Linked DNA regions of Homo sapiens. The protein of the gene in region 2 interacts with the protein of the main gene of each other region in a biochemical or structural test. Each region holds a gene or a part of one and is shown on either strand. Other genes may lie near its edges.

What was found.
Region 1: the proteins of IFIH1 (region 2) and RNF144B form a complex in vitro, tested with the Homo sapiens proteins (one study listed by BioGRID).
Region 3: the proteins of IFIH1 (region 2) and TRIM4 form a complex in vitro, tested with the Homo sapiens proteins (one study listed by BioGRID).
Region 4: the proteins of IFIH1 (region 2) and CCDC50 form a complex in vitro, tested with the Homo sapiens proteins (one study listed by BioGRID).

The regions. Positions count from the first base shown.
Region 1 is NC_000006.12:18,382,187-18,390,739, reverse strand, and holds the start of RNF144B (E3 ubiquitin-protein ligase RNF144B), read right to left. Parts: upstream 3,391-8,553; 5' UTR 3,110-3,390; intron 1-3,109.
Region 2 is NC_000002.12:162,273,685-162,281,578, forward strand, and holds part of IFIH1 (interferon-induced helicase C domain-containing protein 1), read right to left. Parts: intron 7,862-7,894; coding exon 7,644-7,861; intron 6,429-7,643; coding exon 6,312-6,428; intron 4,645-6,311; coding exon 4,521-4,644; intron 4,010-4,520; coding exon 3,731-4,009; intron 3,263-3,730; coding exon 3,003-3,262; intron 261-3,002; coding exon 111-260; intron 1-110.
Region 3 is NC_000007.14:99,916,040-99,924,787, reverse strand, and holds the start of TRIM4 (E3 ubiquitin-protein ligase TRIM4), read left to right. Parts: upstream 1-5,257; 5' UTR 5,258-5,386; coding exon 5,387-5,779; intron 5,780-8,008; coding exon of another isoform or gene 8,009-8,086; intron 8,087-8,748. Other genes in the region: GJC3 (gap junction gamma-3 protein precursor), read left to right, coding at 1,185-1,243. UniProt on the Homo sapiens protein: E3 ubiquitin-protein ligase. Mediates 'Lys-63'-linked polyubiquitination of the innate immune receptor RIGI, this linkage doesn't lead to proteasomal degradation but seems to enhance IFN induction.
Region 4 is NC_000003.12:191,394,968-191,399,627, reverse strand, and holds the end of CCDC50 (coiled-coil domain-containing protein 50 long isoform), read right to left. Parts: 3' UTR 969-4,660; downstream 1-968.

The DNA.
Region 1 (8,553 bases), on a different chromosome or scaffold from region 2:
TATGGTTTCAGCCACAAGTTCAACAGACAGAAACGAGTTGTCTTGTTTTATCTTCCCAAGAAAAACAAAGAACAAGTTGATGAAGGGCTGGGACTCAAACTCGTGACTTCAAAAGATTTAGAAAACAATGGGACATGGCTTTCAAAGTATGCTCTTAATAAATACTCCAAGCCATGTGATCAGAAGTATCTCCAGCTATGAATAAGAAAAGTCTATTTCACTTAGATTGCTGTGTTTTGAATTCAAGAAAGAGATCTGCTCATAGATGAGAAGATCCTCATTCCACGTTGCAGAAGCATTGGTCATTTTTACTCATTTAATATATAGTTATCCATTTTTTAATAACAACTATGGTATGATGCATTAGGTTCCAAAGTACTCACCGACTGGGTAAATAGCAAATGCCAAAGTTAATAAAACTAAAACTTTAGTCCAAGACCTCCCACATACACCTAAAGGTAAAAATTATGAATTAAAATATTTACATAAATTAACTTAGGTGTCATATACCTCTTAATGGTCAAATGGTCAAGGTAACACTACCAAGAAAATTAAGATGATCGAGGTGACAAACATCGAAGTACTTTTTATAATCTGGCAAAGCAATGTGAATTCAGAACTACCACTCTAGACCCAAGTCACTTCTGACCTTATGAGAATTTCTTCCGGACAGAGACCACATCTTAGCCATCTTTATATCCCAGCATCTAACCTAGCACCTAGCAAATCAGTCACTCAGTAGTAGAGTGGATAACTTTTCTGATTGTACTTGGAGGAGAGAAAATATTAAAGGCCTGGTTCTCATCTGTATTCACTTCCAGAAATTCACAAGCTGAAAATATTGACCATTTGTTTCAGGTAAGGAGCTTCTATAAATTAAGGTAGGCACCCCTGAAAGAAATGTTTCAGTACTTAGGAGCAATGGCTACAGATACCTATTCCCCAAAGTCCAAGTGAAAAGCATGACTTGTCTGGCAGCTTGGCCCTTTTCCCACATCCAAAATAATCAGTTGTACAAAGTAGGCTTAGTCCCAAAACTGCTCAGACTTTGTTCCTTCAGTAACATCTGGGTTCAGCATGATTCCTGACCTCTATCTCAAACTGGAGATTTCAAACACTAAAAACTTCACTCTCCAAGAAAGTAATGTCATAAAGTCAAGGCCAGGGGAAACAAAGAAGCCAGGATTAGCAGAAACACTTCGGAGAAAGGATTCTGACATACATATAAATGTTTCTAAACGTCTAAAATATTGAAATGACTTTTCAAGAAGGAAATTTTAAGTGCACCTCCTCAGATGAAAAATATTCATACTACTGAGGAGAAAGACGTTTTTCAGGAAGTTAAATGGTCATACCAGGTAGATAAAATAAGCTTTTTCTTTCCAGAGAGAGCATACTCTTCTCTCTGCTGTAGAGTTTGGCTCCAAAAACCTGGTTCATAATCTGAGACCCAAAAACTGATTATTTTAAAAAGACATGTCTTAAGCTGACCTAGTTTGGAAGCCTGAATGCCTTTAAATTGCCAATGAACTGAAACCATTCATGAGAATGGGCCTTTTGAATGCTGAGAATGTTCTTTGGGACTCAGCACAAAGATATTTGGCATAGATGACTGTAAATATTTGTAAAACTCTGGGTAAATGGGCAGGATTTGACCACACTCAAGCCCGACTTCCAGCACAGTAGTGTAGGAGAAAGTTATCTAGGGTGATTGTTTGGGGTTTTGGGGGGTTTTTTTGGTTGAGTTTTGTTTGTTTTAAATAAAAAGCCAAGCAACCCAATTCTACTACTCAACATCTTTTTCACGTTCACTATATATGTTTACCTTTTTTTAATCAAGATAATTAATTAGTCAGAGACTACTTTTGAAACTGAGGTTTTTCCCTTTCCCACTTTTCTAAGTTTATGCCCACGACAAAAATAAAAAAAAAAATGCCAGTCAAAGGTGTGCAAGGGCAGAGCAGGAGTTGTGTGAAACCATGACCTTGGATTTCATAATACAATTATCTACAAGTGGCTTTGTGGATCTGCTATAGGTTTTTCTCCCCCTCAGGATAGTTTTAGAAGTATTTAAGGCACTGCTGTCCATGAAAAGGACCCAGGTTGTGAAGGAAAGATAAACTAAGGAGAAGGAGGGACTCACAGAGGGATTTGATGTGAAAGGGACCAAGAGGCTCATTTCAGTGAAAGCTGCGGCAGACAGATACTCTAATTAGCCAGCAACTCAGTTAGGACTGGCTAGGTTCCTTTTGCCTCTTACCCACACCCTAAAAACTGAGTCATCCCAAAGTTCATTTATTTTGCTTCTGGGCACAGACACCCCCTAATCTGCTTCCTCAGAAATGTTAGATACATTGCCATTTAATTTATACCTCTCAATGTTCAAATAAACGTCCAGAAATGCCAAATCGGAAGAGCAGAGATAGTCCTGTTAAGAACCTCAGAGCTAATGTTTTGATAAGATACATGTGGCAGAAAGCAATATGAAACTGACAGTCTGTTATGAGAACATGAAAAAAGAACATTTCCCAGAGAAGGGAATTAATTTCTGGGAAATCTTTATGTGAATAGTGTATATGCATGAGGAGTAGACTTACAGCAGGATCCTTGAAACTCATGAGAAAAACAAAAGGTGTTTTAGAAAGAATAAGCAAAAGATACCTACCTTTTCCCTGCACAAACGACAATCAGTTCGATTTTAACTTAAATTTGAGAATGGCTCTCGTAGTATCAGAGTTTCACTGTTTCATTAGCAATTACCTGATAAAATAAGCACTATAATGCATAATCCGAGATTATGCCAACTTTTGGTCTCCCCTTAAGACCTAGGGAGAGGTCTGGTCTAATCTCGGATTCTACAATACATTCTATTATAGAAACTGTTTTATTAGAAATGAAACTACTTTCCTTTAACAAAGGCATTTTTCTTCTAAGTTAACAGGTGTTTAAGGCATTCAGAATGAATTCAGTTCTGTATGGTTTGAGCACTAGAGACAGAAAATCGAAAAATTGTGGTGTCACAGTGAGTTTCCTGTCCTTTTTCCTTAGTCCAGCAACACCATTCCGGTCTTGCAACGCCTGTAGCCTTTAAAAAGCTCGCTAAACCTACCTGGCAGCAGACCTGCGTTCCTCCGTCGCCGGGCTTCTCAGTAGCCTCCCTCGCGCTCACCGCCAGTCCGGGCTGCTGGCACACCGGACAGGAGCTCTTCCATTCTCTCCGTCTTTCCTCCGTGCTCTGCGGCTGACAGCTTTACACTTTGCAAGACTGCAACAGGACTTGCGCTCCCAGACCTACGGGTCGGGAGGAGGCGGAGTCCCCGACCGCCTCCTAGCCTTGACTGGCAGCTGCGATGCCCGGGACTGTTGCAGCGGGAGCGTGGGGCACAGCTCGCCAGCAGCGGTAGCAGCGCGTTTATTTATACAGGAAGCTCAGGCGCCGCACTTCCTACTTCCCATGTGGGTCGTACTTCAGCTGCAGGTGTTGGCCTTAACCCTATCCGAACCCGGGCGCGCTGCACCGACTCTACTGCTTGTCAGGACCTGTCTCTTGTTCTCCTGGGACCGCTGTTGCAGGAATTCAGAGCAGGGGGTGCAGGCAGCTGCCCCTAGCGCACTTCTTCTGCCCAGACAGGGACAGCTCACCTCTTGGCCTTAAGCGCCTGCTACCTCTCTGTCTGTACATATCCTCACAGGCCACCTTTCTTTATTTTCTCCCTCCTTCCCAGCTCTTTAAATCTCTTTCTTCTACTTCTAACAGCCCAGACCTGCCTTCCCACGTGGCAGACAACTGTTTTATAGAAACACTTCCCATGCACATCTCATCAAAAAACAGCTTGTACCTCACTTGTCCTTTTGCATCTAATGATGAAATTAGAATACCTGTGAATCAAATCGGGAATAATCTTAGTTTACCTCATAAAATACAGACACTTCTTGATGAAACAATGATTTCACTTGAAGTGCTTTGTAACTTAACTGGTTGTACCCTCAATTAAACAAAAATGTAACAAAATAATCCAGAAGCTGTGAGGTATTATGAAGTGCTTCCTTGCTCCAAACCCTTGGACACTTCATTTGTGTGACATTCATAATGAATCGCATACCTACTCATTCCCCATATCCCCCATAGATCACAATCACCTAAGTCTGCTGAACATTGCCATTTAGGAATGTCGCTCTGACACAAGAATCTGTGTTCACTCTGCAATCCCTCTCTACTTTTGCAACCACTGTCAGGAATGTGCTTCCTAAAAGGAAGGGACTCACAGGCCCTTTGTGGAAAGGATCTGTGCACGCCAACAGGCACCATTCCAAACGACACAAGCAAACATTGCTTCTCAGCCCTCCAAGTTGAAGAAAACCTCTAGGTCAAAGCAAAGTGCTGAATAACACAGTGTATCTACATGTGCCATGCTAGGGCAGGTAGGAGGACCAGCTCACCAGTCAGGGAGGAAGAGAAAAAGGACAGGGGCAATAAGATGATAAAAGAACCCACGGTAGGATATTTGAGCTTGAAAAGTCTTCCTAGCTATTTTAGCAAATAACCTGATTTTAAAAATAAGGAAACTGGGCTGGGTGCGGTGGCTCACATCTGTAATCCCAACACTTTGAGAGGCCAAGGCGGGCAGATCATCTGGGGTCAGGAGTTCAAGACCAGCCTGGCCAACATGGTGAAACCCCGTCTCTACTAAAAATACAAAAAATTAGCTGGGCGTGGTGGTGGGTGCCTATAATCTCAGCTACTCGAGAGGCTGAGGCAGGTGAATCGCTTGAACCTGGGAGGCAGAGGCTGCAGTGAGCCGAGATTGCGCCATTGCACTCCAGCCTGGGTAACAAGAGCGAAACTCTGTCTCAAAAAAAAAAAAAAAATAAGGAAACTGATGTCCAGGAAGATTTAAGAGATTGGCCCAAACCAGACACAGGCCAAGCTAGAATGAGACCTAAATCTGAGTTACATGAGGAAGGTGAATGTAAATGAAAACCATCCCAAAGGAAGTCCAACCTTCAGATTTAGCAATGGCTTAGGTTCTGAGATAATCTATTTCAAGGAATTTTCTTGGTATAGTGACCATTTTGGTGGACAGGAACTAGGAAAGATAAAAAGCAACCTCTAAGAGGTTAGTTTATTCATTGGTGTTGATGCAAATCTCCTGAGCCTTAAACCAAAGTTCAACACAGAGTCCACTTTTCAAATTACCATTCATAAATTATAATCTCTTGTTAACAGGATAAGGGAAGAAGCTGCTGCCAATATGAATGAGAACATAAGCACGAATAGTGCTGCCTATTATCCCAAATATTTTGCACAACTGAGTAACATCACCACTGATTATTTTCAACCATGCAACTATGCAAATTTTTTTTAAATTGCAGTCAAAATTTAATAAGACTAAATAAACACGTTGAATGCTATAATATTATGTGAACAAACTCTCTCAGATCTTCCTAAGGAGTCTACAGTGTGAATGGATATTCATTCTCTGGAGCATTTATTGATTTCCTCCCAGACAATCTGCTAGGTTGTATTAAGATAATGATATTAGACATGGTCTCCCTGTCCTCAAAGACCTCTCAATCCAGGGAAGGAGTAAGACAAGCAAATCAATTATCAGGGTACTGATAGTTGTACCCAATGTGTGAGTGATACATAATGTGTGATATGATAGACTTAAGCATGATGTGCTATTGGGAGCACAGAGAAGAAGAATTTAAAGGAAAGGAGTTGATGAAAAGAATCAAGTCTTCTCTGAGAAGGTGATTATATTAATCTGTTCTCACATTGCTATAAAGAAATAACTGAAACTGGGTAATTTATAAAGAAAAGAAGTTCAATTGGCTCATGGTTCTGCAGCTGCACAGGAAGCATGGCTGGGGAGCCCTCAGGGAGGTTACAATCATGGTAGAAGGTGAAGGGGAAGCAGGCACGCATGTCTTACGTGACTGGAACAGAAGCAAGGCGGGGTGGGGCAGGGAAATGCCACACATGTTTAAACAACTAGGTCTCTCAAGAACTTATTGTCACAAAAAACAGCACCAGGAGATAGTGCTAAACCATTTATGAGAACTCTGTCCCTATGGTCCAATTACCTCCCACCAGGCCCCACCTCCAACATCGGGGATTACAATTCGACCACGAGATTTGGCTGGGGACACAGATCCAAACCATATCAGTGATTTAAATCTATGTCTTCAAGTAGCCCAATAGGTGTGGTAGAGAAGGGTAAACCAGGCTGAGCAAACAGCTAAAACAAAGGGTTAGACATGAGACTCTAGGTGAAATTTTTCATAATTCAGACAGAGCTGATACATCCAGAATAAATGAATGAGGGTCTGAGCTAATGCAGTGACAACTGCCATGCAAAGGAAGGGAACCAATGGAGAGAGATTTCAGAAACAGAAGTGATGGAACTTGGTATCTGATTGGATGTTATATTAGTCCATTCTCACATTGCTATAAAGAAATACCTGAAACTGGGTAACTTATAAAGAAAAGAGATTTAATTGGCTCACAGTACTGCAGGCTTTATAGGCTTTAAGCATGATGCTGGCATCTGTTTGGCCCTCTGGAGAGGCCTGTCACATGGTCAAAGTAGGTGCAAGAGAGCGTTTCGGGGGGAGGGGGGAGGGAGGCGGTGCTACACACCTTTAAACGACCAGCTCTCACAAGAACTCACTATCCCCAGGACAGTACCTAGGGAGATGGTGCTAAACCATTCGTGAGAAATTTGCCCCCACGATGCAATCACCTCCTACCAGGCCCCACCTCCAACAATGAGGATTACATTTCAATATGAGATTTGGGCAGGGACACACATCAAAACTATATCAGATGCAGGGGGATAAGAGAAAAAGAATAGCCCCAACTGCTGGCACCACTAAGAGGGGGAATAAAAGAGAAGTGATGGTAAGGAAACCATGATAATTCAAATTAAGATCTATAGAATCAGAAGTGCCTCTGGGGCATACTGGAAAAACTGACCAGTAGGCTATCAACAGAGAGAGATCTAGGGTGGAGAGTCATTTGGGAATTGCCATCATTTAGGTGGTGGCCATAGATGAGATTACCAAAAGCTAAGACAACCCACATGCTATAGAGGGAAGCAGAGGATTTGGACCTTGGCAAACTCCACTACCCACTCATTATTATGTAACCTTAATGAAGTTATTTAATATACCCGAAACTCAGTTTTCTCATCTATAAAATAAGAATGATGACATTCATCTCATAGGCTGTTGTGAGGGTAAAAGTGGTTTTTTTAAGTAGCTACCAAAGTGCCTGATACACGGAGATGCCTGCACGATACAAATCTTGATGGGCCAGGGTGGTGGTTGGGGTGGAGGCAGTGACTGGCAGCTCCTGGAATTGTGTACTGCACAACCTGCTCAGCTGTACACCATGGTCCTGGCCTGATACACATTAGGAACTCAGTCAGTGTTATTTATCTAAGAAAGGGAAAGGGGAAGGAAAAGAAAGGGTTAAAAAAAGAGAACCCAAAAGAACATCAGTATTTAAAGGGTAGGTAAAAAAAAGGAGCCCTCAAACAAGTCTAAGAAAAAATTGCTTATTTTATACTACAAAAATAAAGGTAGGCCAGGCACAGTGGCTCACGCCTGTAATCCTAGCACTTTGGGAAAATCGCATGGCCTAAGCCCAGGCATTCAAGATTAGCCTGAGCACCTGTGATAGTGAGACCCTGTCTCTACAAACAATAAGAAATACATTAACAAGACATAGCAGCACATACCTGTAGTCCCAGCTACCCAGGAGGCTGAGGCAGGAGGATCACTTGAGCCCAGGAGGTCGAGGCTGCTGTGAGCTGTGATCACACCACTGCACTCCAAGCCTGCGCAACAGAGTGAGACCCTGTCTCAAATAAATAAATAAATACATATATTTTTTAAAAAAATAAGTAAATGTAACATTTCATATTTCAAACTGAAATGTAAAATCCAGACACTACAATCTACAAAAATATTTTTTAACTTTCTGAGCAATGACATATTACAAATTGTTCACCAGAGATTGTGCCTGTAATCCTAGCACTTTGGGAGGCCAAGGCAGGTGAATCATTTGAGGTCAGGAGTTCAAGACCAGCCTGGCCAATGGCTCACGCCTGTAATCCTAGCACTTTGGGAGGCTAAGGCAGGTGAATCATTTGAGGTCAGGCGTTCAAGTCCAGCCTGGCCAACATGGTGAAACCTTATCTCTACTAAAAATACAAAAATTAGCCAGGTATGGTGGCACATGCCTGTAATCCCAGCTACTCAGGAATCTGAGGCAGGAAAATTGTTTGAACCAGGAGGCAGAGGTTGCAGTGAGCCGTGATCACGCACCACTGCACTCCAGCCTGGGCAACAAAGCAAGACTCTGTCTCAAAAAAAAAAAAAAATTGTATTAACTGATAATATACCTAAAGTCATATAAAAGCAAATCAAAATAAATCTAAAACATACTTAAAGTTTTCCCTGCATGTGAGGCCAAAAAATAAATATAATTTACAGATCCTATATATGTGTAAGATACTGAAATAATATGTATCTACTACATAATAT
Region 2 (7,894 bases):
TTGTTTTAAAAACTAAAAAGATGTTTTTGCTGTTTAACTAAAAGAAAGCAATTAAAATAGGAACACAACAAATAAAAATTAACATAGTAAGTAGAGGTATTTGAATGTACCTGGACCATGGCTATTTCATTGGTGACGAGACCATAACGGATAACAATGTTACATTCTTTAATATCCAGACCTTCTTCTGCCACTGTGGTAGCGATAAGCAGATTTATTTTTCCAGTGCGAAATTTACTAATGACTTCTTTTTGTTCATTCTGTAGAAACATTTTAATAAATTAAATTTTGTGATGCTAAACACATTAAAATCTTCTAATTAGAGGAAGAAATAATAAATTGCAACTGGTCAGTGTAAATCAAAGGATTAGATCATACATGGATTTGTTGCCATCTGTTTTTGGCATTGAACAAAGACATAATGGTGAGACAACATTTGATTTCCAATCTGGGATTACCACACAATAACAAAAATATTTCCATCATCCAGTCTGGAGGTGGGAAGACCACATTTTATGCCAAGGAAATAAATTGATGGGTGACTCCAGAGGAAGAAAGGAGGAGCTGTCGGTTGAGAAGAGGATATGACAATCAGAAGCTAAAATGGGCTTTTTTCCCCCACTACATTAACTTCAGAATCTTTGCTATTTAGAGGATAAGATGCAGAGATGCTTTGATATATTGTTTTCAGTCACAGAGAAAATGCACACTGTATATGCATTTGGTCACTTTAAGAATCATTTGAGTTAGAAGCTATGGAATATTCCCAAAAGGACACAAGAGAAACTGAAAACATCAGCTGCATCTAGGGAGGGGAGCTGGAAGACTAGAGGTCAGTGGTATGCCTTGTGCCTCATTAATTTTGAATGAGGTAAATATATTATCAATTCAAAGGGACAATATAAATAAAAATGAAAGAAGAGGTTATGCAACTGTAAATAAAACTATTTTCAAATGAAAAAACTCTGAATTTTGAAAGTCAATATAAATAAATTAAAATATGACCTCTCATCCTTACATGGGAGAAATGAGTGAGCACAAACCTAGCTTGATATGGACAATGTGGTTTTATTTTCATAACCACTCTCATCAAAGCTGTTGGTCCAGTTGGCATTTGGTGCACATCCACACTGTCTATTGCCCCCATACATTAAACAAAAATAAAGCTGCCAGACCAAAAGTATGTTCTTCCATCCCCTTCCCTTTCTTCTCAGAGGCAGTGTGAGTCCTTATTTGACTCCTACTCCTAACTGTCGGAGAACCCTGTAGAAAGGCCTCTCTTGAGTCTTCTCTGAAAATTTCTCCCTCCGGCCCTCACATCTCCCGATAAAAACTTACATGTTCTTGGATTTTAGCAGAAGATGCCTGTGTCTTAATTTGAAGGAGTAACTTTAATAACAAAAATTCCAGACAGTGTCAGATCTTCAAGTCACATCACATAGATGCCTAACACCATTGCTAAGGAGTTTGTCCACCCCAGTTTACAAGGTGAGGATACAAGGAGTGGGGAAGGAAGGGAATATGTTCTGTATTTTGGCACACAGCCCCTTGGTTTGAAATGAATAAGGAGCAGAAAGTAGCTTGAACATAGGCTTTTCATTTGCACTCTACCTCTTTTTACAGAGAAGCTTAGCCCTCTTACAATAAAAGTCACAACGCTAAAGTTAATATAATAGAAATTTAAAAACAGAACTCATAAGAATCAACACAGAGGCTGTGAGACTGAACTTGAGTTTTTCCTGCTAGCTTTCTGGAAGCTAAGGCAAAAAGAAAAACATATAAAGCAAACTACATCTCATCAAAAAGAAGGAAGCAAACTTGTTACCCAAGGAAAACAGTACTTTCTCTGGCATTAATTTTATTGGCAATGCTCACAGGAGTGCATGTAGAGGGTATATAAAGAGTTATAGTGAACCATTTCAAGAATTTTTTTCCAGCAAACACTGAAACAGAATTAATTTGCTCCATTGGCTTGAATAGTGATAACTATAATAGAAAGGAAGTATCCATTTGTCCAGAAAGACTCAGGGTCAATGTGATTTTAGCCCTCAGAAGAATATTTTACTCTAACAAGGCATCATTGCTTCATGCATGCTTGTAATGTCTACTAGTGCCTTTTTTTCTTACCCAAGTGTTTTTTTACTATGCCCACAGTAAGCAACATGTAAACAAAGTAAAACAAAACACCTTAAAATGGAACAGAAAACCTACTTACCAGAATCCCAAATCTCTAATATATCAAATTCTTTAGTTTTTTCAAGTTTCCCTAGAGGTCTCATTCTATGTAAATATATTTTGCATAGTTCTAGTTATAACGAACACATTTTTGTGGGAGTTTGAATTTTCCACTTGATACTACATGGCAATCATTTCTGAACTTTGTTGTTAAGCTTACATGTCACTTATTTTTGCAAGGGAAACTTAGAAAGTTCTTCCAATTATTATGTGGGAAAAATGACTCCTAAAACAACACTTAACCTCTCAAAAACCACAGATTTGATTGCTATTAGCCTTAGATTTTATTTCAAGAACAGGTGTTTTATCCTGTAAATGTATTCATGGGTGGTGAGAGGATTGGTAGAAAAAGACTAAAAACAATTTGAGAAGAGTAATAACAGCATAAGAAAAGAAGTCCAGGCTGAGCGCAGTGGCTCGTGCCTATAATCTCAATACTTTGGAAGGCAGAGGCAGAAGGATGGCTTGAGCCCAGGAGTTTAAGACAAGCCAGGACAACATAGTGGGACACCTTTTCTACAAAAAAGATAAAAAAATTAGTTGGGTGTGGTGGTGCACACCTAGAGTCCCAGCTGCTCAGGAGGCTGGGGCTGGAGGATTGCTTGAGCCTAGGAGGTCAAGGGTGCAGTGAATCTTGATCATGCCACTGCTCTTCAGCCTGAGTGACAGAGCGAGGCCTCGTCTGAAAGAAAAGAAGAAGAGAAGAAGAGAAGAGAAGAAGAAAAGAGAAAGAAAAGAAAAGAAGTCGTCCAAAAGGATATTTATACCTGTGTCATGGGTTTGAACTCACTGCTGTGTCCAGCTCCAATCAGATGGTGGGCTTTGACTCCTACTTCAGCAAATTTTTCATTTTCAGTAATCCACTGGGAAAGCGCATATGCACTCTGTCGTGTTTTTGTAAAGATTATTCCTCGTGCTGATTCCTCAGTCCTAGTATATTGCTCCATTATGGTATTTCTTAATTTGGTCAGCTTTTCATTTTCATATTCTGGGTTTTCAGCCAGCCTTTTCAACATTTTATTGTTTTCTTTAAGAAATAATTAGAGTTGATATGTTAACAAGCTTGATTTAGCCACTCCACAATGTACAGATATATCAAACATTTTGTACACCAAAAATATACAGTTTTATTGATTAAAAATTAATTAATTTAAAAACTATTTGGAAGTATAAATTAGTAAAACATACAACGAATTACACTAGAAGGTTTCATGAATTGTGGCTCATCTACAATCTTGCGCTATATCTAATAATTAGGATGGTTTAATAAATAAATTCATTACAATTGTCTTGACAATAAAACTGAATGACCAAATGACTGACTGTGATCATACAACTGGTAGCTAATCTGGTCATATCATTAGAAATAGTTCCAATCTGAGTGGGATTTCTTCTTTCAAAAGATATTTCTCTTTTTGGAGAGCTTATGAGAAGCAGTAAGTTCATGTTGAAAAGGTAAATGAATGACACCAGTATATGTTACTTTGAATCTTACCAAAAAATAAAGTCATGAGAAATCTATCTGTTTCATCCAGTTTCAAAGGTTTCTTTAAATCATCCTCATCTTCATCACCATCACAATACTCATCATCACCACCCTCATCACTATCATCTTCTATGACTGCAAACTTCTTATCTTTCTCTTCATTATAGAAAGTTTCAAGATGAGTATACGCATCTATCATTCGAATTGTGTCATTAATTTGTAGGGCCTCATTGTACTTCCTCAAATGTTCTGCACAAACACGTTCTTTGCGATTTCCTTCTTTTGCAGCTGTGAAAAAATATATTATGTAAGTGAAATAATAAGCATATAAACCCCCTAAAATTGTGCCATGGACTTGAATATATGTTACTAACTGCAAAACTGGCTTCACCTTGGTTTTAAAATGGGCAAGTTAAGGCTCAAAATGTGTCCTGAGCTCTGAAACAGGGCAAGTTTTCCAACTCCTAGACTTGCTGCTTGAGTTCTGCCTCAGCAAAAACATGTAGCTGATGCACAGAGAAATGGCATGAAAATATATTAGTTGAGTTTGCCTTTGGAGACAGAGCTATTAAAGTTTATCTCAAGACTCTGGAGACAAAGAGAAAATTGGATAGCATTGGAATCTCTCTCCTTAGAAAAGGAATTAGAACATGTTTATTATGCTTGTCCTACAGAGAACACAGAAATTCTATTTGGAACTACTTTTGCTTTCCATTTTTTGGGGAATCTGTGATATAGTCATCTAAAATCTTGGTATAAACATGGGATAAACTAAGTGTTAGGTCCAAACCTAAATTACCTTTTTTTTCCATTTGAATGGCCCATTGTTCATAGGGTTGAGTTCCAAAATCTGACATTGGACTCATTTGACAATAAGTTTGAATCCTTGTCATTATTTCTAGAAGTTTCTCTTTAAATGGATCCTAAAAATAAAGTACACACTTATTCTTATGTATTCTTATTGTTAAAGGAATAACATTATCTTTGTTAGAATAATTTCTAGGTTATAATAAATCTGATTCATCTTTGTTTAGACAAAGTAACAGGTTAGTGTCCCATCACTTGTCTGTACATTTATTTTTGTCAGCTTCTCTTTTAAGCCTGCCATCAAGCCACACCCACACCAACACCCTGTTACCTCTGCTGGAATCTCCAACTTAAAAGGTTAACAAAAGTAAAGTTAATGAATTATATAAACCTTGTATGTTAAAGGTAACTTAGAAAACACATATTGCATTAATGCCACAATTATTTAGAAAGCTTACAGTGTAATTTAAGAAACATTCCTCCTTTGTAAAACTGGTTTCAGTATTATTTCGACCAAAATAAAAAGTTGAAGTAGAGTCTGAATAAAGCCAGAAATAAAGGAGTGCATGCTATATGATTCCATTTATATAAAGTTCAGAATCAGTGAAAACTCATTTTTTGTTTTAGAAGTCAAGATAGTAGTGATTCCTGGGGCATGGTGACTGGAAGGGGGAGCCAGGAGCTTTTAGGATACTGGCAGTGTGCTGTCTCTTGATTTGGATTTTGTTTACATATGTGTATTCAGTTTAGGAAAATTCAGCAATCAGTACACATATGAATTTGTACTTTTCTGTATGTATGTTATGCTTCAAGGTATATAAAAAAATTAAAGTAAGTTTAAAAAATGGCAAATTCTTTTAAAAAATGTACCTGAGAAATTTAGTTTTAAAAATCTTTATGAGTAGAAACATGCATTTAAAATTATCAAGTAAAACCAAATAAGTAACAAAAAAAGGAAAGTGAATAAAATATATTCAACTGTGCTAGTGCAGCTGGAGTAGATAGCAGTCTTTTTCAGAATTTAAAAAAAGAGATATACGGAGGCTAGTTACTAACATTGGTTTAGTGCCTACTATATTTCAAGCATTGTTTTATCTACTATGCATATTTCATATCATTTGATCCCAACATTCTTATTTTCAATGGTATTATCAAGTACATATGGCCAGAATTTGTAATGCTTTCTAAATTTTACAAAATAAAGTATTGACATAATTTACTGGCCATAATGTCCAAATTGACTCTCAGTTTATTCTTATAATTCCTGAAAAATTCATCAGAAAAGCATCATTAAAGTAAATATTTCACTTCTTTACCATTGCACTGTTTTCCTAAGAAAGTAAATATGCAAGTATGCAAATTAGATAGGATTCCCATTATCATTGCCAAATGTAATTTGATAGCAACAAAATGGCTCTGTGGAATGTCAGAAAATCAATCCTGGAATTCACGAAGAAAATTAAAAAGGCTAAAACGAACTGTCATAACCCCTCCAGCTTAGTTACACATCCCTCTGCCCATGGCCCCTCACTGTCCCTTTTAACTCATATGTACAAACAATGAATAAGCTATTCCTCATGTAAATTAGAAAACTAAAAGAGGTCTAGAGGCGAGAATTCACTGTAGTGCTTTACTGCCTAACATCAATTAAAAAAAAACCTGAAACTTGTTTGCTAAAATTTTTAAATAATATTTTTCAGATGGTCAGTATAAAATAGCCTTTGCCATCTTTCTACTGAATGTAGTATTGTCAATCAATAGATATAAAACATTAAGCCCATACTTCTCTGGTTGCATCTGCAATGGCAAACTTCTTGCATGGCTCCTGTATTTGGTTTTTCAGTTGATCAAGGTTTTCTTTAACAGTTTTAATAGTAAATGCATCAAGATTGGCACATAGCTGGAAAAGAGACATTTTTCAATATTTATGCAATTATTTTTCCCTTTCACTTTATTCAACGTAGAACTCTTTTTCATGTAAAAAATATGTAGCATTAAATTGTAGCATAAATATGTGGTATAAAATTTCATGAAAGTAATATGTAGCATTGCTTGCTAAATATAGCATTTTAACATTGTTTTATTATGGATCTCATTAACCCACAATCAGCAACATTTGTCCTAATATAGGAAAAAGGAGCTTCTAAATCAAGTTGGTGTAATAACAGAGAAAAAGGTGTATTGATATTCATTCCTTAAATTCCATTTTCCAAGTGGAAAACTGACATGGAAAGAGTATAACAATTTACCATCATTGACAGAGAATGATTTTGAGATAACCATGTTACATGAGGCATATCAAAGGTCAACTTGACATCCGTGGATCATACTACCACCTTCTTCTACACATAAAGCAGGCATCTACACATAAAGCTGGGAGCATCCTTAGTCATGTTCCTTGATTATTAGATTGGAATTAGTCCTTAATCCCAGTAATAAATTATATTTTGGAGCCTATAATTGCATCTCTGAATGTTGTGTCTACTCTACATAATTTGTATTGAATTCAACTTAAAGTAAGGGACTTAAAATTCAAATGCAATTGCCTTGGTACCAAAATACTTCTTGGGCTACTCTGATTTACTTAACACTCAAGATTAACAGTAGCACTGTATGTGGTGTTACCATTAGGGGGCAGCTGACAAGCTCATCTTTAAAGATCTTCATATCCCTATTTCCCTTTAATTTGAATTACCTAGATTCCTAGAATAACATATGAAGGACAGAAAATACGCAGTTTTGAAACTCATGGAGTAAGACTTTATTATGTGTGACAACTAGAAACTTTCATAGTTTATGCATATTTCTATATCAGGTAGATCATTAAATTTAACCATAAGAGTAGATGTTCAAAAGAAGGCATTCTATTTATCTCAACTTCCCATTAATTATATCACTCTCCATCATTTTTATGATATGATTTTGTGTTATTGATATTTATTAAGGCATATTAGTATTCTGTAGAAGACTGAGTATATTTATTGTACTAAAGCAAACAGATTTCACTTAACTGATGATCACAGCACTTGAACTCAATCTTATTTAATAAGACCAAGAAGTCCTGGCATTTGTTTTAGCTTTGCTTTCATTGGTTATACATAAAATTATGACTTACTTTTAAAATGTGTTCTTCAGCTTTGGCTTGCTTCGTGGCCCCTCCAACACCAGGTGAAGCTGTTAGTCCCAGTATCTGAGGAAGGGGAATCACTGGTTTGTTTTCTTTCTTGAGTCTATTGTTTTTCAACTTCTGCATCAAATAATGCCTCATGATGTTATTATACACTGCTTCTTTGTTGGTGTGATGACATTCATCAATGATAATGAGGGAAAAGTCTTAAAAGAAAATTCAAAGAGTTCATTTCTCCA
Region 3 (8,748 bases), on a different chromosome or scaffold from region 2:
AGTTCCCAATGGCCAACACAGGAATAATCTGAGCAGTAAAATAAACAACATAGTATTGGATTATACCCAAAGTATAAAATAGGAATCCATGAATTCATAATATAAATAATTGAATAAATAGGAGATAACTGACAAATTTCTCATGCAGAAGAATGTAGATACTCCACCGCAAGGAGGGGAAATATAACTACTCACTTTTTTTTCTTTTGAGATGGAATTTTGCTCATCGCCCAGGCTGGAGTGCAATGGCAGGATCACTGCAATCTCTGCCTCCCAGGTTCAAGCAGTTCTCCTGCCTCAGCCTCCTGAATAGCTGGGATTACAGGCGTGCACCACCATGCCTGGCTAATTTTTGTATTTTTAGCAGAGACGGGGTTTCACCATGTCGGCCAAGCTGGTCTCGAACTCCTGACCTCAGGTGATCCACCCACTCAGCCTCCCAAAGTGCTGGGATTACAGGCGTGAGCCACCGTGCCCACCAACTACTCCCTTTTTAGGCATGGGCTGCACATAGTGACTTCCCACTAAACAGTAAAATAGGGGGAGGGGAAAGAATAACTTTACAGGGAGAAACCCATCAAATACTACCTCAGCCGGGTGATCAAGGTTAACATCAACAGTGATGAGCAATGTTGACAGCATGTGCCCCGGATATGATGTGATGACGGTTTTTGTATTTTCCCGTTCTAAAATTTCCATGGGGCTATTCTTTGTATTTTCTATTACTTCTCTGAGACTTTTAAACTTTCCATTTGAATAGCAGCTTTATAGTCTTGATAATTCCAACATGTGTGGCAACTTACATTCTGCATCTGTTACATTTTTTCCCAACGTGAGTTGAGATTTTCCTGGTTCTTCACCTGCCAATTAATATCGATTGTATCCTGGACATTTTGAATGTCATTAGGATGCTCTGGGTCTTGGTTAAATTTGGTGGAGGATGTTGATATTTATGTTTTAAAGGGTAATTAACCCATTTGGGTTCAAGTCATAAGTTTTGACCAGCCTTCTGAGGGTTGTGGTTCCAATGTCAGTTCAGTTTTCAAAGCCTTTGTAGTACTCTTCTGATAGGTCCCACATGGGTGGCACCTAAAGTGTAACCCAGGGTCCTTGGGTTTTGGGTACGCACTGTGAAAAAGTTACACACTTGTAACTGTTACATCTTGAATTTTTGTTTTAAAAAGTTCCAGGAAGAAGCTTAGCCCAGGAAAAACAAAGACCAGTTGGACCCAGAGATGCCTGAGTTGGAGATGAACTTTGGCCAACTTTCCTCATCACCATACTTAAAATCCTGTCCAAGGAGGAGCTTATTCACCATTTTCTATACATGTGACATATGTAGCAGCATAACCGACAACTGGGACTGCGCTGCCTTGACTCCACCTCTACATACAATGACTCAGCTAACCAGACTAATAAAAGCCATGTTTGCACCATTGCTCAGGGAGGCATTGCTTTGGGGAATTATTCCCAGTGTCCTCCTTACTTATCGCAAGTAATAAAATCCCCCTGGGAAATCCTCCTTGGTTGTGGTCATTGGACTGTCCCCTGCCAAGCAATTTAACCCATTCATTGTGTGGGTAACAAAAGGCCAGTCTGGGACATGAGATCTGGGTCTACAGTTTAGTTCTCAAAGTCTTTGGCATGCAATTTAGGACCAGATTCATCATACCAAAAAAGGGAGATAGTCTCAACAGAATTCTCAAATTACTTAAATATCAGAGGCAGTGTAGAGAAGGAGTACTTGGTGGTATGGTAGGTTTTCTGACAGGAAACAAAAGATGGAGGTAAAATGGAACCAGTACTTTCTTTCTGAGAATACTGACTGCACCAACCATAACATGAAGCGAAGGCTATATCTCCCTGAAGTAAGAAATGTAATAAAGGAAACTTTCAGAAATAATAGATCATCTGGAGATGTTGGGCAGTGTATTTGGTAAGTTATAACTACCAGGTATCAATACAATAAGCTTAGTTTGAATACAATAAGCTTAGTTTCTTTTTAAAGAATTTATCCTGCTCTGTGTTCTCTGAGCTCCTTGGATTGGTTTGGTGTCTTACAAATTTTGGAAATTCTCAGCCATTATTTCTTGATTTTTTTTTTTTTTTTGAGATAGAGTCTTGCTCTGTCGCCCAGGCTGGAGTGCAGTGGTGTGATCTCAGCTCACTGCAAGCTCCGCCTCCCGGGTTCACGCAATTCTCTTACCTCAGCCTCCCGAGTAGCTGGGACGACAGGTGCCTGCTACCATGCCCGGCTAATTTTTTTGAATTTTTAGTAGAGACGGGGTTTCACTGCGTTAGCTAGGATGGTCTCGATCTCCTGACCTCGTGATCTGCCTGCCTCGGCCTCCCCAAGTGCTGGGATTACAGGGGTGAGCCACTGCGCCTATTTCTTGATTTGATGTTGATATTTTCCCACCAGTCTTGGATGCTGTGTTCTGTTTCTGTCACTCTTTTTGTGTGTGTGTGTGTGTGTGTTTCAGCAATTTCTATTTACCTACCTTCAAGTCTGATTTTTTCCTCAACTGTGTTCAGTCTCCTAATGGGCCCATGGAGGGCATTCTTCATCTCTATTATTATATTTTTTATTTTTATAGTTTCCATTTTATTTTTCCTGATAGTTTCCATCTATTTGCTAAAATCACCCATCTGAGCTTGCATTTTGTTCACCTTTCCCCTTAGGGCCTTCATCACATTAATCACAGTTATTTAAAATTCTCTCATATTTCTAATGTCTATGTCTTATGAATCTGGTTCTAATGATTGTTTTATCTCTTTGGACTGTGTTTTTTCTTGCCTTTCTGTATGCGTCTTTTTTTCTTTCTGTTAAAAGTTAGTCATGTTGTATTTTTTTTGCTTAAATTATTTTTTCAATTCTCTCTTCACAGTATGAAGTAAAGATTGTTTTTATGCTTGGAGATGAGTGTGTCTTTCCTTCTGCTAGGCCTTTAGTGCTCTTGAGTGCATAGCAGTGGTTCGGTGGTATCAGTCTAGTCAGAAATTGGGCTAGGTTTACAGTTTGTTGTTGTGGTTATCCTCAGTGCACAACAGACTTCAAATTTCTCTAGAGATAGCTTATGTGTAGGGTGTGGACTTTATTTTGAAAGTGTGTTTTAAAGAGGTCTGTATGGATGTCAACTCGATGCAGAGTGGACAGTGGTAATTTTGTAATATATCAACTTTGCTAAGCTAAACTATGTTTCCCAGAATTTCCTTTCCTTTTGTTTCTGGTTAGAATAGCCCAACAGAGACATGGTTGTGTAAGTCTTGAAGGGGAGAACTGAAGCATCCCTCCAGTTTTATACTTGAAACGGTGGTGCAGGGACACTAGGTGCTACTGCGGCTCATCTACTTTGTCACCAATCAGCTGGTTCACCTTGTTGGGATGGGGCAGAAGCTTTTCCCTGAGTCTTCCTTCACCTTTTTTGATTCCTGAGCTGTGTGTGTGTCTAGTCCTGTGGCAAAAAGTGTCAGCTCCTCTAGCAAGGATACTCATATCTTTAAAGTTGGAGACAGTGAAAGAATGACCAGCTCGTGTCTTAGGTTCCAACTCATTTTTGCTCTTCCCTACTTTATGTTCATCTTCCCTTCTTAACTGCTTGCCCTGCGAACATAAAGAAACATAGTGATTCCACTTCTCTGAATGAACCTTGGCTGGTATACAGACTTATAGACATTTTGTGATGGAGAAAAATTGTTAATTAGGGAGCCTCACTTAGTAAAGAAGGAAGGTCATCTCTGGTATGGCAGGAATAAAGACATAAGGATTTTAAGGGATTTACCTGAAAAGATTTAAATGACTACTGTAAGGGGAATAAATACTTTGCAGGAATGCTGAAACTTCTCATTCAATACTTAGGTAAACATATAGACACACAGATGCCATAAACACTCATGGTAAACATCAGTAACTGTTAAGAGCATTCCTTCCTGCTTGGTCCCTATTAAAGAACCAGATCCCTTCTCCATAGAGTATTCCAATTTGCAAAGAAAATCCATTCATTAGTTGTCCAATTTAAATGTTTTAGAAATATTCAGTGGAACTTTCATCAATAACCCCCAAACAGATACCTCAAGAACCCCTTTTTCTAATCATTTAATCATACTACTTACTGAGAAAAATTATTATAGGAAAGGCAGTATTTGATATTGGGACATAAAAAGAATGAAAAATCTGTTAAATAAGCAAAAGCCCATTAGCCTGAGGCTGTCTTGGTACTTGAGTTCCCATATAACAAAATACAACCTGACTTAGTATGTAAACGAACTGAAGCCTAACTTACTTTATTTTTTATAACAGCTGGGTTTCAGCCAATCACGGCCGAGCTTCAGCAAATAACAGACAGCCAACTGATCAGACCATGCCCCAATAAGGCAAATGCCTCATCATATCATTGTCAAATAAGGCAGACACCTAGATGTTAGCTAATGAGGTGATTTCTCTACTTTGCTTCCTATAAAAGCTAGCAGGTCATACTGCTGGACAGAGCTCTCTGAACCTCTTTTGGTTCTGAGTGCTGCCCAATTCATGAACTGTTCTTTGTGCAAATAGCTTCTATTAAATTTGTCAGTCCAGAGTTTTTTTTGTTTTAAACAAATATTCACAAGAAAAGGAAGAAAGTGGGAAGAATAAAAAGCAAAGCACCTCAGAAACACAAGATCGAAAATCCACTTAAGGGATATAGATAATTCCCTGAAACAGGTGAGCATATTATTTGTTGAAAGCCTCCATGGATGTTCTTTGGGATAGCAAAATGGTTGCTACTTTTCAAATTGGATACCAAAAAGGCAATGTATCTGCATCTCAGAATCCAAATCATCCCCACGTTAGCCAAACTCCAGGCCTACCAACACAGATCCTTCAAGTCTTCCTGGCCTTCCAGGCCCCTAGGCTGCAGCTCGCCCAGAACTCCTGGGACTCTAAAACTTAAATCGGTCTAACCAGCAGGCGAACACAGACCTGAACCCTCAAACTTGGAAAGAAAGATCATAGGCACCTCCCCGGTTGGCTCCCCCAGGGACCACAACGTCCGGCTCTAACGCCTTGCCCAAGTCCTCTGTAGCTTTCCACAGGCATTTCTGGGTCTCTATAGCTGTTTGGAGGAGCCACTCACCGGTCCCGTCCTGCCCCGCGCCTAGGCCTGAACCAACCCCCTCGCGGTTCCGGCGCGGATACCCAGCAGCTTCCGGTCTTGCGCGCTCAGGCCGGGCAACGTCCGTGCGTTCTTTTTGGGTCCTGAACCCCGGAAGAGAAACTGCGTTGTACCCTTTTACGTGAGGCGGTGACGGCGGTTCGGAAGTCGTCTGGCCTCCCCGCGGCCGCTCGCAGCTTGCTGGCCTCTCCCGCGCCTCACGTCGGACTCCGTCTCCGCGGCAGGGAAGCAGCATGGAAGCTGAGGACATCCAGGAGGAGTTGACCTGCCCCATCTGCCTGGACTATTTCCAGGACCCGGTGTCCATCGAGTGCGGCCACAACTTCTGCCGCGGCTGCCTGCACCGCAACTGGGCGCCGGGCGGCGGCCCGTTCCCCTGCCCCGAATGTCGGCACCCATCGGCGCCCGCCGCGCTGCGACCCAACTGGGCCCTGGCCAGGCTGACTGAGAAGACGCAGCGCCGGCGCCTGGGCCCCGTGCCCCCGGGCCTGTGCGGCCGCCACTGGGAGCCGCTGCGGCTCTTCTGCGAGGACGACCAGCGGCCAGTGTGCCTGGTGTGCAGGGAGTCCCAGGAGCACCAGACTCACGCCATGGCACCCATCGACGAGGCCTTCGAGAGCTACCGGGTGAGCTGGCCGTCGCGGTGACTATGACGGGGCTGTCAGTGTTGCCCGATAAAGTTTACTTAATGCTCCTAAAAGAGCCACGAAGTGGCTGTCATTCCTACTGGAAGCATGAAAAGCCCCTGAAACTCAAAGAAGTTAAGCAAAACACGAATTTCAGAGCTAGGGTTAAAACTGGAATGAGAGGAGGGGAGGTGCAAACCTCAGCAATCATTGTGCAGAATTTTCAATAAACTGGCCCTTGGGGAGCTCATAATAAAGAAAAACATACTGAGAGGGTGTGTGCCGCTGCTGTCCAATAGAAACCACATATGTAATTTAAAATCTTTCTGGTAAGATAAGGAAACGAGGTGACGTTAATTGTAATAATATATTTTATTTAATCTGATTACCCCAAATATTCAAAGCTGAGATGAAAATTATCAATGAGATTTTTTTTTTTTTTCTGAGATGGAGTCTCACTTTATTGCCCAGGCTGGAGCACAGTGGCGTGATCTTGGCTCACTGCAACCTCCTCCTCCGGGGTTCAAGCAGTTCTCCTGCCTCAGCCTCCCGAGTAGCTGGGATTACAGGCACACGCCACCACACCCGGTTAATTTTTGTTTTTTAGTATAGAGGGGTTTCACCATCTTGGCCAGGCTGGTCTCGAACTGCTGACCTCAAGTGATCTGCCCCGCTTGGCCTCCCATAGTGCTGGGATTAAGGTGTGAGTCACCACGCCCGGCCTCAATGAGATATTTTATACTCCTTTTTCATAATAGGTCTGAAATTGGTGTGTATTTTACATTTACAACACATAGCAGTTTGGAATATCCACGTTTCAGGTGCTTGTATGGCTAAATGGATACTGTATTGGACAGTGCCTGTCTGTATCTGTAAATGTCATAGACAGCTGATGATTTGGGAAAAGCCTAGCTTGTAATGATGAGGCTGGGTTTTGTTACTAGCTTCCTTCATCAGTTGGGAAAATCCTGTAACATTTGAATTTGGGGATTATCTGTCCTATCTCATGGGTTAAGAAGCTCCGGTTGAATAAATCACTTTACCTTACTCTGCTTCAGCCATACTGGCTTTCTTGCTTTTGTTTCAAGTCTGTTCTCTTTCTCTACCCACATCTATCCTTTAGATCCTTTTAGCTTTTAGCTTGAAGACCTTCCCTGATCATCCTTTCCAGAGTAGCCCCACCCCCTCCCATTACTGATGGTGTAACTCCAGTGGTCTCCAGCAGAATTGATATGCAGTAAGTACATGAACACATGAATTTATTTATTTATTTTATTATTATTGTTTTTGAGATGGAGTTTCGCTCTTGTTGCCCAGGCTGGAATGCAGTGGTGAGATCTCAACTCACTGCAACCTCCACCTCCCGGGTTCAAGTGATTCTCCTGCCTCAGCTTACCGAGTAGCTGGGATTACAGGCACCTGCCAGCATGCCCAGCTAATTTTGTATTTTTAGTGAAGACAGGGTTTCACTATGTTGGTCAGGCTGGTCTCGAACTCCTGACCTCAGGTGATCCACCCACCTTGGCCTCCCAAAGTGCTGGGATTACAGGCGTGAGCAAGCTTTCCTGGCCAAACACATGAATTTAATGACACAGTGAAAATGTTTGGAAACTGTAAAATACTGTACAGTTGTACCAGCTGACTATGAACAGGAAACAGACACAAAGCTGGACTAGAAAGTGTATGTTCATTCCTTCACTCAGTAACGTTTATTGATGCTTACTATTTGCCAAACATTGTTTTAGAATCTGGACATAAGTGGATGAGAAAGACATGGGCTTTGTCTTGTAAGGAACTTAAGCGTGTACAACATTAATTTCAGTGTGTGTGAGAGTAGCTGAAGTATTTACCAAGTGTACAGAAGGTCTGAGGTCGGAGTGATCACTGAGGAGTGAGGAAAGGCTCCGTTGAGGAGTTAAATGTGTTAGCTCTTCAAGGGTGAGTAGAGGTAGGAAAGAAGGTATTTCAGGCCAAAGGAACAGCATATTCCAAATGTGGTGGAGTGGGATAGCATGTGGTGTGTGAGAGGACTGGAGGTTGCTCAGTACTTCTGGAGCATGGAGCATGGGAAGGAGGATGGTGGGCCATGAGCTTGAAGAAAAAGGCAGGGCCTTATCATGAAGGATCTTGTTTGCCATAGTAAAAAGATTGAACTTTCTCTTTCAGGCAGTGGGGAGTTATAAAAGGGTTTTAAGGCAGGGAATGATATGATCGTTTTTTTTGTTTTAGACAGGTAACTTTGACATCCACGTGGATGAATGGAAGAGAAGACTAATTAGGCTGCTCTTGTACCATTTTAAGCAGGAGGTAATAAAGACCTGAATTAGTTCAGGGCAGGGATGATGGAGAGGGAGGGATGGAGTGATAATGAGCTGGAGTTGAATGACTTGGTGATCAATTAGACTTGGTGGGTGAGAGAGAGAGGAGTCTTGGATGGTAGTTCAGATTTCTGCTTCAGATGGCAGGTAGATGACTGTCAGGTTAACTGAGGTAAGGTACACAGGAGGAAGCGTAGTCTTAGGACAGAAGATCCCATGCTTGTGGAATGTACTGAGTGTGAAGTAATTGTGACAGGAAGTCCAAGGAAGAGGGACAGGAGGTGGGGTGCCTTGGAGGCTAGAGATAATATTTTAGAATCCTCAGCCTGTTCTTGAAGTCATGGAAGAAGTAAGAAGATGAGATTCTCCTAGGAGGACCACATAGAGAGTAAAAAAAGGCACAAAGAGAAGCTTGGGAAACACCAATGGTTGGTAGCCAGCAAAAGACATGGAGAGGACCCATCAGATAAATGGAAGGGAAAATACACTTGTGGGTGGGGGCCGAGGGAAATATAAGTGGATGGGTATGAAAGGGGAACATAGCCCTTAAATCTTCCATCTTCAGCAGTAATAGCTATCAGTTGTTCATTACTTCTTACGTACCACCCACAGTTCTAAGCATTTTTCATACTGTAATTCTTTAATCTTCAT
Region 4 (4,660 bases), on a different chromosome or scaffold from region 2:
TCAGGACATCGAGATCATCCTGGCTAACACGGTGAAAACCCATCTCTACTAAAAATACAAAAAAATTAGCCAGGCATGGTGGTGGGCACCTGTAGTCCCAGCTACTTGGGAGGCTGAGGCAGGAGAATGGCGTGAACCCGGGAGGCGGAGCTTGCAGTGAGCCGAGATCGCGCCACTGCACTCCAGCCTGGGCGACAGAGCAAGACTCTATCTCAAAAAAAAAAAAAAAAAAAAAAAAAGAAGGAACTTTCTTGTATGCTACCTTTTCACATGGCCACATGGCCATAGCCTGACAATCAGACTCAAGTCATATTCCCCATAAACCACCCTATCACCTTGAGTACCTCTTACCACAGATTAAAGGGATCTGTTTTACTTGCATATTTAATTTTTTAGTTGGCTTCTAGATGCATCAACTTTTTCCACTGGCAACTTTAGTATTTATTTAGAGACCAAAGGTTGAAATCAACATACTAATCTTCAACTAAATAAAACAGTATCACCTGCACATCACTGGTACTACTCAGGATCTAGCAGAGACTACAGAAATCATTTAGATTTCCTGCTATATTTGCCACAGAGGAATCTGAGGCCTAGAGAATCTACTGTAGGGGTGGCTAAATAGTGACATCTTTAAAAATAAATTTAGTAGTCATTGAAAATATTATATTTAAGATACCTAATTTTTGCAGAATCATTTCCTACATTGTGGCTATTCTATCAAACCAAATAAGAAAAAAAAAATTCTTATGAAGGTAAAATATTGAATAAATCAGTTATTAATATCCATTTCTCAAAATACATTGAAGTGTCCACAAGGTGTCAGGTATAGTGCAGAGTTGTGCATGGGGTCTTTAATCACTGGAATTATTGTGTGAACATCCACTTACCTGTTTTTTTTCCTCCCAAATATATCAATCAAACCACGAAACACCACACACAAAACAAAGCTACTTCTCCAACTGATCCACACTTGGCAGTATTTATTGAGGATTTCAATACACCAGGCATCATTATCATGTTATACATATTTACAGAAAGTGTATGGAAATGGAGTAAGAAAAAATTTCACTGTTACTAAACAGACCTATTAGGGTCATTTTGTAAATAATAATAATTATAATAAGACTCTCGTAAGTTTCCCTGTCCTTGAATGCTGTAAAGAAACAAAACAAAAACATGAGACAGAGACCACTGACTTAACAAATGGATGACTTTATTAAGAGAGAAGGACAAGACTGATGTTTACCTTGGTCAAACCATCCAGGAAAACAAAGCACACAGACTTATAGAATACTTTGGTTTAAAAATTATTCATAATATCAATATTAAACCTGATGTTTAAAGAACCTAATGAGAAATATAGTGTAAAAAACAAACCATGAAAACACAAGTTTGCATAGATGAATTAATGTAGATGTACAATTGGCATTTAAAAAAGGAGGTTTGCGTTTTGGGAGTGCCTTAACGATGTTGAACACCTCAACCTCCCAAGACACATGAAAGTCACCAGCACCACAATTCTCATTTTCCTCAATGAGGTCATGAGCAGGAACAACTTGTGCTGTACGGAGGTGAACTGAAAGAGACTGCTTCCATTGGCCTAGTCCAGATGAGTGTATATATTCCCATCAGAACCCACCACTGGTCATCTTTAAGGCATCCACAAAATGTCCCTCACAAATTCACTTAATCTCTAGATAGGCATGTGGTCTGAGGCAGCCTCTTTGTTTTCTGTCCTCACACAGGCAACTGCATTCCATCAAGGTTCTGTTCAATTCCACGAACTAGCTATTTCAAAGCTGCCTATTCTTCTGGGGCTTGGTTATAAATCCATGTGGATTTGGAATAACAATCCATTTGTTTTATAAATATATCCACATTCCAAATATCAAAGGGGCACTTCCTAAGGAATCTGAAAGTGCCCAGGCAATGCGTAGTCTCTCTCTCAAGAGATCACGTTTCTAAATTATGAGACAAATGATAGCATCACCTCAGGTTTCCTGGGCAACTTGATTTATATGAGCAAACTCTTGTACTTTTTAATTCAGCACCTTTTCAAAATATGTGCTGGGATGGATTCTTCTTAGGGAAAGCCCCATATAGAATTCTCATTTTGGAGCATCATTTTTATATGCTATCTCCCCAGTGTATCTTCTCAATATTTATAACACTTTATGAAATAAATATTGGGTTGCCTGTAAGAAGAGAAAAATATAGCTCTTTCTGAGAAAGAGCATTTGGCTTGCAGTTTACAGCAAGAGCTGAAATTAGAGACCATAGGGATTTCCAAGACCAATTTGACCAGAAATACAAAAATTCTGATGTCAAAAACCCTCTCACAAAATTTAACAGGTAGAAATTATTTTAGCAGTATAGCCTGAAATCCAGTGCAACAAAAATGTATCCCAATTCTATGATATGTCATAGTATGTTCTCTTAGCTGTCTTCCCTTACTTGTTCTTACTCCTTACTTGATCTTTTGGGAAGAAAATGTCGCCCAAACCCATCTTTCAATTTTTCTATTCTTTATATGAACCTCAGCAATGAATAACAGGGCATTAAGTTACACAATTAATTATGCCCTTATCTGAAATGCTGAAACCTGCACAGTGCTGGTTCTCTATGCTATGAAGTTAACTCAAAAAGAGAAAAAACATTTTCTTCTAGTTTGCTGAGAATGTACAAATGCATCTTAAATCTATTAAAATGTTACTAGGCAGTGTTCACATATTTATATATATAAGGGAAAGAGAATGGTTTTTAGGGCCATATATTTCTACAACTCAACATGATTACACGATTGTGTTAGCCTGTGGCATCAAACAGAATCACCACTCTGGTGTCTTTCTTATCAAAGCAAAAGTTTTCCTGCTTTTCTCTTATAAGTAATAAAACAGAAACACTCTTCACATTAGCAAACCTCCCATTTCAAGTAAATGTCTCTGTTTTGTTCGGTTTTCTCCTTTTTTTTCCCTGTTAATGGTTAAGCATTTCAATACACAAGGGTGTTGGTGAAATTCTTACAAATAATCTGAATGTCTTCACTGCATAACAGAACCTTTGGAAATATCTTCTATGTAGTCACCATAGAAGACAGTCAACTCTCAGTTACTCAAGAAGTGGTACCTGGTATGAAGGATTTGGCCAAGAAATTCTCTCCTTCTACCAGTCTTTTTGGTCATGCCACTGCTTATTCAGAGGTGGACAGACAACATGAAATAAAATTATGTATTTATTGTGTTACAGATCAGCCACAAGTCAGTGGCAGAAAAGGTCCAAAGCTTCTGATGACAAGGATACTTGGGGATCATCTGTGAATGTTATATCTCAATGGAAAGCTGACTGTCAGTCACATAAAGGAAGTAACGTACACTGACATCAGTCAGAGTCAAACTAATTTAAGGCAGTACTGCTCCTCACAAACAGTGCTGGCATAAAGTGCAGGTCTCATTGTAAAAGTGACTCTGTAGTAGTAAGATTTTCTCAGTTTACTCTTTCTTTCTTGACTTCTCTACAATTAAATTTCAGCATTTCTAATGACAGTTGTTAAATACCAGGAGCAACAATATCCTGACTCTTTAATATTCTTACCTCTCGCCATGGATAAAAGAGATTCTTCCACCAATAATTTGAAAGACATTGTGCCCCATGCAGCATTAACAGGACAGTCTCCAGTTTGCTTCTACCTGCCCATATTACTTATCATGGGCTAAAAAGAAAAAAAGTATTCTATCAACAGTAAGATAAGCAGATATGGCTTTAAGACTCACAGGCACCACCAGAAATGAGAAAATTGGACCATTTTATATAGTCACTTCTCTATGAGCAGTAAGTAATAGACAAAGTAATTTAAAAATCTTTTTTCCTTTTTGCTGAAGCATGAGGTTTTGATTTTGTTATGATCGTTTCAACAGAATATGGCACTCTATGTACAATGAAGTCTACCTTAGCACTCCTTACACAAATACCGTCTTCTCAAAAGGGAAAAAGCCTTTGGCTGCAAGTTCTATTCTATTATCAGTCCTTCAGAAAGCTGTTTACACAGAGATCTCACTCCTTTATTAGGGTGAAGATTTTACAGCCAATCATCATAGTTATCTTTCAAGAAAATAATCACTGAATAATGAATCATCTTGGTATTCCCCAAAGCGATGCTTATACAAAGGCAAGACATAAAAAATCTAGGACTTAAAATGTTAACCACTTGTGGAGTAAACTGAATGCACCATATTATAGTGGGTATTTCCAATTTGGCACAACACAAATTTTAGACAAGTTTTGACAGAAACTATTAAAGAAAATTAATAATCAGTTAAAAGCTAATTATTTTTATACTGAAAAGTTCTAACTTTGAGAGAAAGTGATGAGCAACAGTCAGCAAAGAATTTACTCATCATCTAGCTCAGCTTCAGGACACATTAGAGAAGAAAAGCGGGGTTAATGAATCAGGTCCAGAATTTTCTAGAGTGAGTTCAGTAAACACAAAGCCCAAGGTCACACATTTTGGAATATGTTGACCTAGATCCAAGTGGTCATTGCCATTCTAAAAAGGTTTTCCTCCTAAAAGCATCTATCCATATCTTTCTTTTCTAATTTAGCTATTTCTCTATCATCAGAACACCTAGGGTTAATTTTCATTTTCTGCTTTTGTAATTTA